3 separate regions of the Homo sapiens genome follow, and all the other regions are reported to be linked to region 1. The links are microRNA targets in miRTarBase. Many come from high-throughput screens and were not tested one by one. Region 1 holds a microRNA gene; each other region holds the end of a gene's coding sequence.
Evidence for each region. Region 1 holds the annotated microRNA hsa-miR-6893-3p (CCCUGCUGCCUUCACCUGCCAG, at 1,185-1,206, opposite strand). A microRNA usually pairs through its seed, bases 2 to 8, with sites in the 3' UTR of a target mRNA and lowers its output. Matches are read on the target gene's strand: a 7mer-m8 pairs with bases 2 to 8, a 7mer-A1 pairs with bases 2 to 7 and ends in A, and an 8mer does both.

Region 1 (3,344 bases):
ACAGCCCCAGGGGTCACCCACCAGACTTGCTGTAGAGCCCACTCGCACATGCCTGTGGGTCTAGCACTGTGAGGCCCTGGGGGCCGGGGTGGGTCTGCAGCACCCTGAGCTCCACCAGTCACTGCCAGATTCCACACCCCCCGGGACAAGCTTTCTGGGAAGCTTCCCCAGCAGCTCCCAGCCCATGCCAGGCCCTCCTCCTTGGGTTTGACTTTCCAGGCTTTCGGCTGCTTTTTGCCATCTCCCTGTCAGCAGATCATGGGGGCTGAGGGCTGTCCTCTCCCTTCCACCCACACATCCAAGTGCAGGACACAGCACCCACCAGGCTGGGGGAGGTGCACCCCAAAACACCCGAGGCCCAGGAATGAACCGGGCTGGTGGAGCCTGTGTGCCCAACCCCCTTGTACGACCTCACCCAGAAACTGCAGCTCTCCTGGCCCTCACCTTGCCCCAGGCTCTGGCAGGCCCTGCGGTAGCGGTCAGTCAACGGGGGCAGGTCCCACGAAGTCACCTCAGCCAACACCTGGAAGGCACCGTCATGAGCCACCTGGGGGCTCCCCCGGCTCACCTCATCATTGCTCTGCAGCCATGAGCCACCCGGGGGCTCCCGGTGCCTGAGGCCCTGGCTCCCCCTCCGCTCTGCGGCTCACCTCGTCATTGCTCTGCAGCACATCAGGGATGAGGTCCTGTGGGGCCAGCAGGGCCCCCTCTTTCCGTAGGGTGAGCCTGGGCAGCAGCCCGCAGGTCTGGTAGTAGCGCTGGGCCGCCTGCTCGGCCAGCCAGGCCACAGAGTGGGTGTCACTGCTGCAGGGACAGAGGCGCTGCTGCTGCTGCCTGCACACAGCCGGGGTAATGCCCCAGGGACCCGCCATCCCTGCCCAGGGCCAGAAGCCCCCTCAGCTGCTTCTCCCATTCCCAGGTAGCCGGCCCCTCCTCTCCCTGCAGCCCAGCACACCACCAGCCCCTCTGCTATTCCTGGGGGCCACAGGATCCTCCTGGAACACACCAGGGAGCCCTCGTCACACGCCCCACCCTGACATGCAAACACGAGCACCCTGGCATGGAGCTGCACAGGTGGGCTGCGGGGTAGGGCAGGCGATGCCTCACCTGTGTGGGACAGGGATGAGGAAGAGATGATCCTGAACTTGAACTCGAACCCGGATGGGAGGGGGCGGGGCCGGACCCTGGCAGGTGAAGGCAGCAGGGCTGAGTCAGGAGCCACAGTGGGCTCCACCCTACACCTGCCTGCCCGGAGTGGGGAGAGGGCTCTGCTCCAGGTCTGCATACCCACCAAGGGCTGGCCTGCCGCAGAGCTGTCCCCACTGGGCTCTGAGACCCTGGGGGTGCTGGGGCTCCCTGGAGGTTCTGAAGCCAGGCTGCTGGGCCCTGCGTTAACTGGCGCACTGCAACTCTGCATGCAGGTCAGGCGGACCTGCTTGGCTCGGGCACGGGGCCTGCTCTCCTCACTGTCCGACCCAGAGGTACTACTGGGCCTGCGGTTGTCTCCAGTGCCCCGGGGGCGGGGCCGGCGGCTGCGGGTCAGGGGCATGTCCAGCTCCAGCCAGTCCCCGGCCAGGCACTCCTCCTCCGGGATGAGCGCTGCCTGGGGGGCAAGGGCTTTGCTGTGGCCCCGCGGTGGGCCAGGCCCCAGCCGGCTCTGAGCACTGCCCACACCCCGGATGGCTGCCTGGTAGGCTGCCCGGCTGGTGCTGGCTGTGGCTGCTTCCCTGTTGCTGGCGGGGCCAGGCGTCCAGGCTGCCACCCGTTGTGCTGTGGCCGAGCACCGAGGCCTCTTCTGGGACGGCCGTGCGGGGCCTGCGCTGTCCTCGCCTTCTGAGCTGCTGCTGCTGCTGGCTGGCCCATGCCTGCTCCTCCGAGGCCTGGCCATGGCTGGTGCCGCCTGCCCTGGGGAGACCCTGACATGGGCCTGAGAGGCCTCTGGGAGTCTAGTGCTATTAGAGGGGGGTTCTGGGCAGGGGCTCAAAGGAGGAGAGGTCTCGGGGTCAAACAGAAGGCTGCTTGGGGTGTGGAAGGCCTGGGAGCTGTGGGGATCTGTGGGAGAGAGAATGCGTGTTGAGGCAGGGGCCCGGCACCTCCCGCTCCACCTGTGATGGAGCATCTCCCGAAATCAGGGCCCGGGGACTCTCAGCGTAGGCACAGCAACCCCAGGGACAAGGGACGCCCTGCTTGCCTTGGCCCGAGGCAGCCGCCTGGAGCAGCATCTCCATGGCCCTGGCCTTCTGCCGCGTCTCCAGGTCCAGGTCCCTGCGGTACAGCTTCACCCACTGCTGCAGCGTCTCCAGCGGGCTGAGGCCCTGTGTGGCATCAGTTGAGCAGGGGCACAGCAGCCCCCATAACCTCGCCCTTGCCCTCTGCCCCACCAGGCTCACCTTTCGAGTGCGGAGGGTGACGGACGCCCCCCGTTCAAGCAGCAGCTCAGCCACCTCGAAGTGGCCACAGTTGAGGGCATCGTGGAGGGGGGTGATGCCTTCGCAGCCCTGGCCACCTGGGTCGTCCACTGCGGCCCCGTGGTCCAGCAGGAAGCGGACAATTTCTGCAGACCAGGAGACGTAAGCCCAGCTCCCGATGCCCCGCCAGGACTGACTCTTCGCCCCACGTGTCCACCAAGGTGCGCCAGGCTCCTTCTGTCCCTTGCTCACCTAGATGCCCGTAGTTGCAGGCCTCGTGCAGAGGTGTCCAGCCACAGTAGTCCCGAGGGTTAAGGGGGTGGCCCTGTGACCAAGGACAGGAAGGAGCCTGGCCCTGTGTACCTCACAGCCTGGCCCCAGCCCCGTGAGCTCTGCAGCCTAAGCTGAGCCCAGGGCCTCAGTCTTAGAGCCCAGAGCAAGTCCGTGGCCCTGCCCTCTCCTCCTCCGGCCTAGGTGTCACCAGTGAAGGACATGCTTCCCCCTGAGACAGGTGGACCAGCCACAGCATATCCTCCGCCTCTGTGCCTGCCCGGTCCCCTTGTGGGGAGACAGTGCACCTGGTCGCAGGGGCATGAGGCAGGCGGGGCGGGAAGGTGCCCAGATCTCAGCCCATGGGCTAGCCCCCATCCTGGCCAGGCTGACCAACTTAGCTGTAACACAGATGCATACCACACAGCAGGTACCCCATTTTTTTTTTGAGACCAGCCAGGCTGGTCTCAAGCTCCTGACCTCGTGATCTGCCCACCTTGGCCTCCCAAAGTGCTGGGATTACAGGTATGAACCACCGCGCCCAGCCTGGGCACCCCATTTTTTTGTGTTTTTTTTTGAGACAGAGTCTCGCTCTGTCACCCAGGCTGGAGTGCAGCGGCGCAATCTCATCTCACCGCAACCTCCGCCTCCCAGGTTCAAGCGATT
Region 2 (3,000 bases), not on the chromosome of region 1:
GCTGGCAGACCTGGTGGCTGAGGAGTTGGCCTTTGCTAGGCAGCATGGGACCCGGGGTTTCCACTGGACCGGAGCTGGCTTTGCCCTTAAGGACGGCACCTCGGACTTCTTCCTGGATGGGGCCCTGACACGCTGCAGCTGCTCAATTCACGCCGCCCGCCGTCTGCCCTGCAGACACCTCTTTGCAGCGCGCCTCCTCACTGGGGCTGCCTTATTCCACATGGACCTGCTCAGGGATTGCTGGGGGAGAGCCCCAGAGCCCTGACCCTTCATGCCTCTGCCCACCACCCTCCACCAGGAGGGTCGGAGGGCATTCTTCGATCCCAAAGATAATAGGGCTGAGGCCAAGGAGACCGTTGCAGTCCCCCTGGCCACCTTCTGGGTCATCCAGGGACCTCCTCATGGCAGTTTGCCTCTCTGGGTCCAAGGGCAAGCTGTAAGTGGTCTCTGAGGTCCTGGAGCCACAGCTTGGGAAGGTGTTGATGGGCAGGGTGGATTCTGAGGGCTTCCCTCTGGAGAGGAAGCATGTGATGAGAGGTGTAGACAGGGTCAGGCTGGGACAGAAGGAAGGAAAGGGGCAGAGCTGGGGGGAGGGGGAGGAAGCGATCATATGGGGAGTGTCTGGCAAGAGTAGACTGGCCAGTCTAGGGAGTGCAGCGGGGAGAGGGGAAAGGGAGAAAGTACAGAAGACAGATGAAGGAGAGGAGGTAAGCGAGAAAAAATGGAAAGGGGAGCCGGAAATGGAGGAGAGAGGACAAGCAAAGAGACAGAAATGAAGACATGAGGAAAAGCTGGGGGAAGCAGGAGAGGAAGGGACGGGATGTAGGAGGGGGAAGAAAAATCGGAGATGAGACAAAAGAAATGTGTGGGAGACGGGTAGAGACGAAATGCAAGGGGCGTGGTTTTGGTTTTTCTCCAAGACCTGGAGACATCGACCCCCATCGCCTTCTGAAGAGAGAGGGAGGGCGGGCACTGGGGGTCAGGAGAGTCTCCAGCAGGGGAGGGGAATTGTTTGGACTATTGTTCTTCAGGATTGGAATAAAACAATCTTATTTTGGTTTCCGTGATGAGTTCTTGGCTTCTGGGGTTGGTTGGGAGTCCCAGATCCAGGGAACAGTTGAGATGGTCCAGCGTTCCTTCATTCTTTCTACCGACAAGGCCTCCTGGGGCCAGATGGATAGAGGAGCCACAATGAATTCATCTCCATAGCAACTCAAGCTTCCTCCTCCATCATCTGGACCAGTGCGTCCCAGTGGCAACTTCTTGACATGAGTCGATTCTACCTTCAAATGACTGACTCATGCCAAATGTCCTGGCCACAGAATGGGCCTGTGACCCAGTCCTGGTCAACGAGTCTGCTCAGGTTGAGGTGGGAGGCTTTTTTATTTTTATATTTTTGTAGAAACAGGGTCTTGCTATGTTACTCAGGCTGGTCTTGGACTCCTCGGCTTAAGCAATCCTCCTGCCACAGCCTCCCAAAGTGCTGGGATTACAGGTGTGAGCCACTGTGCTCAGAACTAGGAAGCTTTTTTTTTTTTTTTTTTGAGTCTTGCTCTGTTACCCAGGCTGGAATGCAATGGCACGTTCCCGGCTCACTGCAACCTCCACCTCCCAGGTTCAAGTGATTTTCATACCTCAGTCACCTGAGTAGCTGGGATTACAGGTGTGCGCCATCACACCTGGCAAATTTTTGTATTTTTAGTAGAGACGGGGTTTCACCATGTTGGCCAGGCTGGTCTCAAACTCCTGACCTCAGGTGACCTGCTCGCCTCAGCCTCCTAAAGTGCTGGGATCACAAGCGTAAGCCACTGCGCCCGGCCTAGGAGGCTTCTAATAAAGATTCTATCACTCCTAAGAAGGCCTAGAGACATGATCAGGCCTAGACCTGCTGATGATTACCTTGGTATGGTGTGATAATGAAGTCCACACTGAGGATGACAGAGCTGAGATGAAGAAAATCTGGATCTTTGCTTGGCTCAGTTGAGTCTCTCGAGTCTGCTCTACCATGGGGCTTCTTAAGTAAAATATATCCTTTTTTGTTAGAGACAGTGTCTCGCTCTGGCCCAGGCTGGAGTGCAGTGGTGCAAACATAGCTCACTGCAGCCTTCCAGCTCTTGGGCCCAAGGGATCCTCCAGCTCAGCCTCCTGAGTAGCTAGGACTATAGGCTCGTGCTACCACCTAGCTAATTTCTTTTTCTTTTCTTTTCTTTTCTTTTTTTTAACTTTTTGTAAAGATGAGGTCTCTTGCTACGTTACTTGGGCTGTTCTCAAACTCCTGGCCTCAAGCGATGCCCCTGCTTCAGCCTCCCAAAGTGCTAGAATTACAGATGTGGGCCATTGCACCTGGCCAATCAAAGATACCCTAATGATTTAGGGAAGTTTGAGTTGGGGTTTCTGTTGTCGCAACTGATGAAGGGGATTTAATTCTATTATAGGTGACAAAGTCCAGGTTGAAGTAGCTCAGCATTTTTCAAACTTTAGCGTGGACGTGAGTCACGTGGGCACCTTCTTAAAATACAGAGTCTGACTCAGTAGGTCTAAGATAGGGCCCAACATTCTAGCAAGCTCTCCGATGATGTGGCTGTGCTGGGTTGTGGAGCACACTTTGAGTAGCAATGAAGGAACTTGAGATAAAAGACAATTCAGGCCGGGTGTGGTGGCTCACACCTGTAATTCCAGCACTTTGGGAGGCTGAGGTAGGTGGATCACTTAAGGCCAGGAGTTCAAGACCAGCCTGGCCAGCAAGGCAAAATCCTGTCTCTACTAAAAATACAAAAATTAGCCAGATGTGGTGGCGGGTGCCTGTAGTCCCAGCTACTTGGGAGGCTGAAGCATGAGAATTGCTTGAACCCAAGAGGCGCAGGTTGCAGTGAGCCAAGATCGTGCCACTGCACTCCAGCCTGGGTGACAGAGCGAGACTCTGTCAAAAAAAAAAAAAAAGAAAAAAAATGATTCAGTGGTTCAAGTCATGCGAAGTCAAAGGCTTTGATGGCAGCTGAC
Region 3 (3,344 bases), not on the chromosome of region 1:
CACAGTTTGCAATTTTTCATTGGAGGAACCCTCAGATGCTTCTAAATTTCAATTAACATCCTGTCCTTTCTTTGCCTTTTAATGCTTATTATTTCTTGACTAGTTTTTATAAATATCGTATCAAAATTTTGATGACCAAGTCAGGTAAGTATACAGTTATCTTATGTATCTATGTGCAGTACATTTTAAACTATTTTATTTTGTTTCACTATTTTTCAGTACTTAAAAATAATAAAGATACAAATGTTAAGTCAATTACTTTTTACTCTGCTTAAACATTATTTTTATTTGTTTATTTGCAGGAAATCAGAGATGGTGGTTCTCTCAAAATGATTCACTTTGGTCTGGTGTAAACATTAAGAAAAAAAGAAAACTGCCTTCTTCATATCTAAACTTTTCATGGCCTGATACAGACTTAAAATCCCCCGTGTGGATTTTTAACAAGAGACAGTATGAATCATATAAATTAGTTAAGAGTTTTGAGTTGAGTGTTTGTTTTCAAAATAAAGTTTTATTATTTCAAAAACATGCAGCATAACAGCAAAGTGATCGTAAGTAAAAGTCTTCAACCTACTTATTTTCAATAATGTAAAATTTTGAAAGTGTCTTAAATTGTATGTTAATTAGGTGCTACAAAAATAGAATATTTAAACTTTGTTCTCCCAGGTACTTTAAAAAAGGGGCAGTAGGGGGCAGGCATAGTGCTCATGCCTGTAGTCCCAGTGCTTTAGGAGGCCAAGGCTGAAGGATCACTTGAGCCCAGGAGTTCAAGACTAGCCTGTGCAACATAGTGAAACGCTGTCTCTAGAAAAAATTTTAAAAATTAGCCAGGCATGGTGGTACATGCTTGTGAAGCTGAGGCAGAAGAATTGCTTGAGCCCAGGAGTTCAAGGCTACAGTGAGCTGTGATCGCGCCACTGCACTCTAACCTGGGCAACAGAGAGTGACCCTGTCTCCAAAAAAAAAAAAAAAAAAAAAGAAAGAAAAGAAAGAAAGAAAGTCCTCTTCTGCTCTTGTTTACATTATTAATTTACATTACAAATACAGTATTTATTATGCAAATTTTTCAGCCCAGATCCATTGTTAGAAGACAATTCTCCATGGTTCTCTCGAATTACTGCTATGAGTAATTTGCCCTGACTGCCCCTTAGAACACAGATACTGTTTCCCTCTGGAGAAAGGGGCAGGCATGCTTATCAACTTTTATATGAGATTTGAGTTCTTTAAACTCAGAATGCCTCTCCTTTACACTGCCCATTGAGTGTGCAGGTGTCATCTAGCCCTCTTAACATTGCTCTATAGGAATAGGGCTCAGAGAATCCATGAAGAAAAGAAAAAAATGCCGATACCCTGGTTACTATCATTTGTCTCTGACTCAGGAGTCTCATGTCTTCTAACAGCATCCATGAAACTATAGTGTGGTAACTTGTTAGCTAGTAAGTAGGGTAAAATCTCATACCCTTCACAGTTATTGACACCCATTCTTTAGCAGATAACTGATATTTCACAATTATAGACATCTATAGGCCAGGCACGGTGGCTCACGCCTGTAATCCCAGCACTTTGGGAGGCCAAGGCGGGCGAATCACGAGGTCAGGAGATGGAGACCATCCTAGACAACATGGTGAAACCCCGTCTCTACTAAAAATACAAAAAAAAAAAAAATTAGCCGGGCGTGGTGGCGTGCACCTGTAGTCCCAACTACTTGGGAGGCTGAAGCAGGAGAATGGCGTGAACCCGGAGGGCGGAGGCTGCAGTGAGCTGAGGTCGCACCATTACGCTCCAGCCTGGGTGACAAAGTAAGACTCCGTTGCAAAAAAAAAAAAAAAAAAAATTATAGACATCTATAATAATAATCAACATTGTTTAATATTAGACAATAATTACATTATATAATTAAATCTTAGAGTTCAAAGTTAATCAGACTGAAGGCTTTTATACTTCAAATTTTTCTTTCTACTTCCCATTTATCTGTACCTCTACCAGAGGGTATGACAAAAAAAGGTGAAACTCAAATTAGATTTTTCATTTTGTTATTGCTCTGAAAAAATTTTAATAATGCATAACATGTAAGCCAAACTGAGTTACCAGCAAATTTTCATTCTCCTATTCCCAACCTTCTTTATCACACAGATAATCAAAAGTTAACTAATTTTTAGAGAAAAAATTGTATTTAAAAAAATAGGGTTTTGTCAAGATTGCAGAATTTTCTCCAGATTTTCCGGGTAAATAGTCATTAACCCAAAATACCTTTCCTGTGAGATACTAAAGATAAAATATGGATATTGATACATCTATGTTTTTCTACATAATGATAATAATAATGAAAATGTTTGCCAGTTATGTAGGTGAAAATTAAACAAATCATAGTTCTTAAAGTACCCATTTTCCCCACTTCACATACCTCTAGAAAAGTTAAATGTACAGAAAACCAAGTTTAGATAGTAAGAATATATTATGAATGATCTTTGATAATGTCCATGATTTATAAATGCTGTTATTTCCCAGATGTTGTAAATCTGAGAATATTAATTAAATTGATATTCCTCCTCTGCTAGAACCTGAAAGGATTATGAAGGGGCTACCATAGCTCTAAAGTAAGAAGAGTGGTATAGGCAGGAACAGCTAGGTAGTATCTGTCCTAGCACTGACAGGTTCACAGGTTGTCCTTTAGGAATAGACCCATGAGCTTTTTCAACTATTTTCCAGATTTCTCAGATCTGAGGTAATTTCCACAGTAATTTATATTAGCTGTCACATTGTGTCTTATTGCTAGAATAAACTTTGCTTGGAATGCTAATGTCTAAAAGTTTTTGCTTCATTAAAAGGCTGTGTAACCAAAACTTGGTATTATACTTTCTTCTTAGTATCTTGAAATGTTTGTTAAGGAGTTATAATTATACCACTCTCTACTGAGAGTTTGATCAGTGCTACAACACACATAGCCCTGTACCTACATAGGGATTCTCAATGAAACTCAGTGAGGAAGATACATCATCATCATCATCCCTACTCTATCGATGAAGAAACCTGATGAGCCTTCTAGCACCAGGTGTCACCTAGAAAGGACAGAGGGGCCTGGCCTCCCCTCCCACAATGTGCCAAGTGGAGTTTGAGCTGGCCCACACTGCCCTCAAGCAGCTGAAGGGTACTGTGTGCGATCAGGAGAAAACTGCTGGTGTACAGCTTCTGCAAACAGCCCACCCAGAGCGACTGCAACATCCCTGCCCCTTCAGCCTCAGATGTGAAAGCCAAGGCCAAGTAGGAGGCATGGAATGTGAACAAAGGGATGTCTAAGATGGACACCATGAGGATCTATGTTGCCAAAGTAGAAAAGCTGAAGA

Region 2: the mRNA of ZSWIM9 is a reported target of hsa-miR-6893-3p. Seed matches in the 3' UTR shown: 7mer-A1 at 800-806 and 7mer-m8 at 993-999.
Region 3: the mRNA of WDPCP is a reported target of hsa-miR-6893-3p. Seed matches in the 3' UTR shown: 7mer-A1 at 1,718-1,724.

What each region holds. Positions count from the first base shown.
Region 1 is chr8:144,434,367-144,437,710 of GRCh38, forward strand. It overlaps MIR6893 (microRNA 6893), which reads right to left and starts at 1,253; the gene lies at 1,185-1,253. TONSL (tonsoku like, DNA repair protein) reads right to left here. Exons shown (of 26, transcript NM_013432.5): 14 at 2,661-2,733; 15 at 2,391-2,554; 16 at 2,192-2,315; 17 at 1,292-2,052; 18 at 1,108-1,184; 19 at 651-804; 20 at 445-523. It overlaps TONSL-AS1 (TONSL antisense RNA 1), which reads left to right and starts at 802. Exons shown (of 6, transcript NR_109770.1): 1 at 802-1,074; 2 at 2,385-2,629; 3 at 3,333-3,344.
Region 2 is chr19:48,196,563-48,199,562 of GRCh38, forward strand. ZSWIM9 (zinc finger SWIM-type containing 9) reads left to right here. Exons shown (of 4, transcript NM_199341.4): 4 at 1-1,058. The coding sequence ends at 265. Among named protein-coding and RNA genes, the nearest start is that of ZSWIM9, 27 kb to the left of the region's middle. RefSeq lists an enhancer at 1-464.
Region 3 is chr2:63,119,015-63,122,358 of GRCh38, reverse strand. It overlaps WDPCP (WD repeat containing planar cell polarity effector), which reads left to right. Exons shown (of 18, transcript NM_015910.7): 18 at 303-2,800. The coding sequence ends at 353. It also overlaps the pseudogene DBIL5P2. Among named protein-coding and RNA genes, the nearest start is that of OTX1, 70 kb to the right of the region's middle.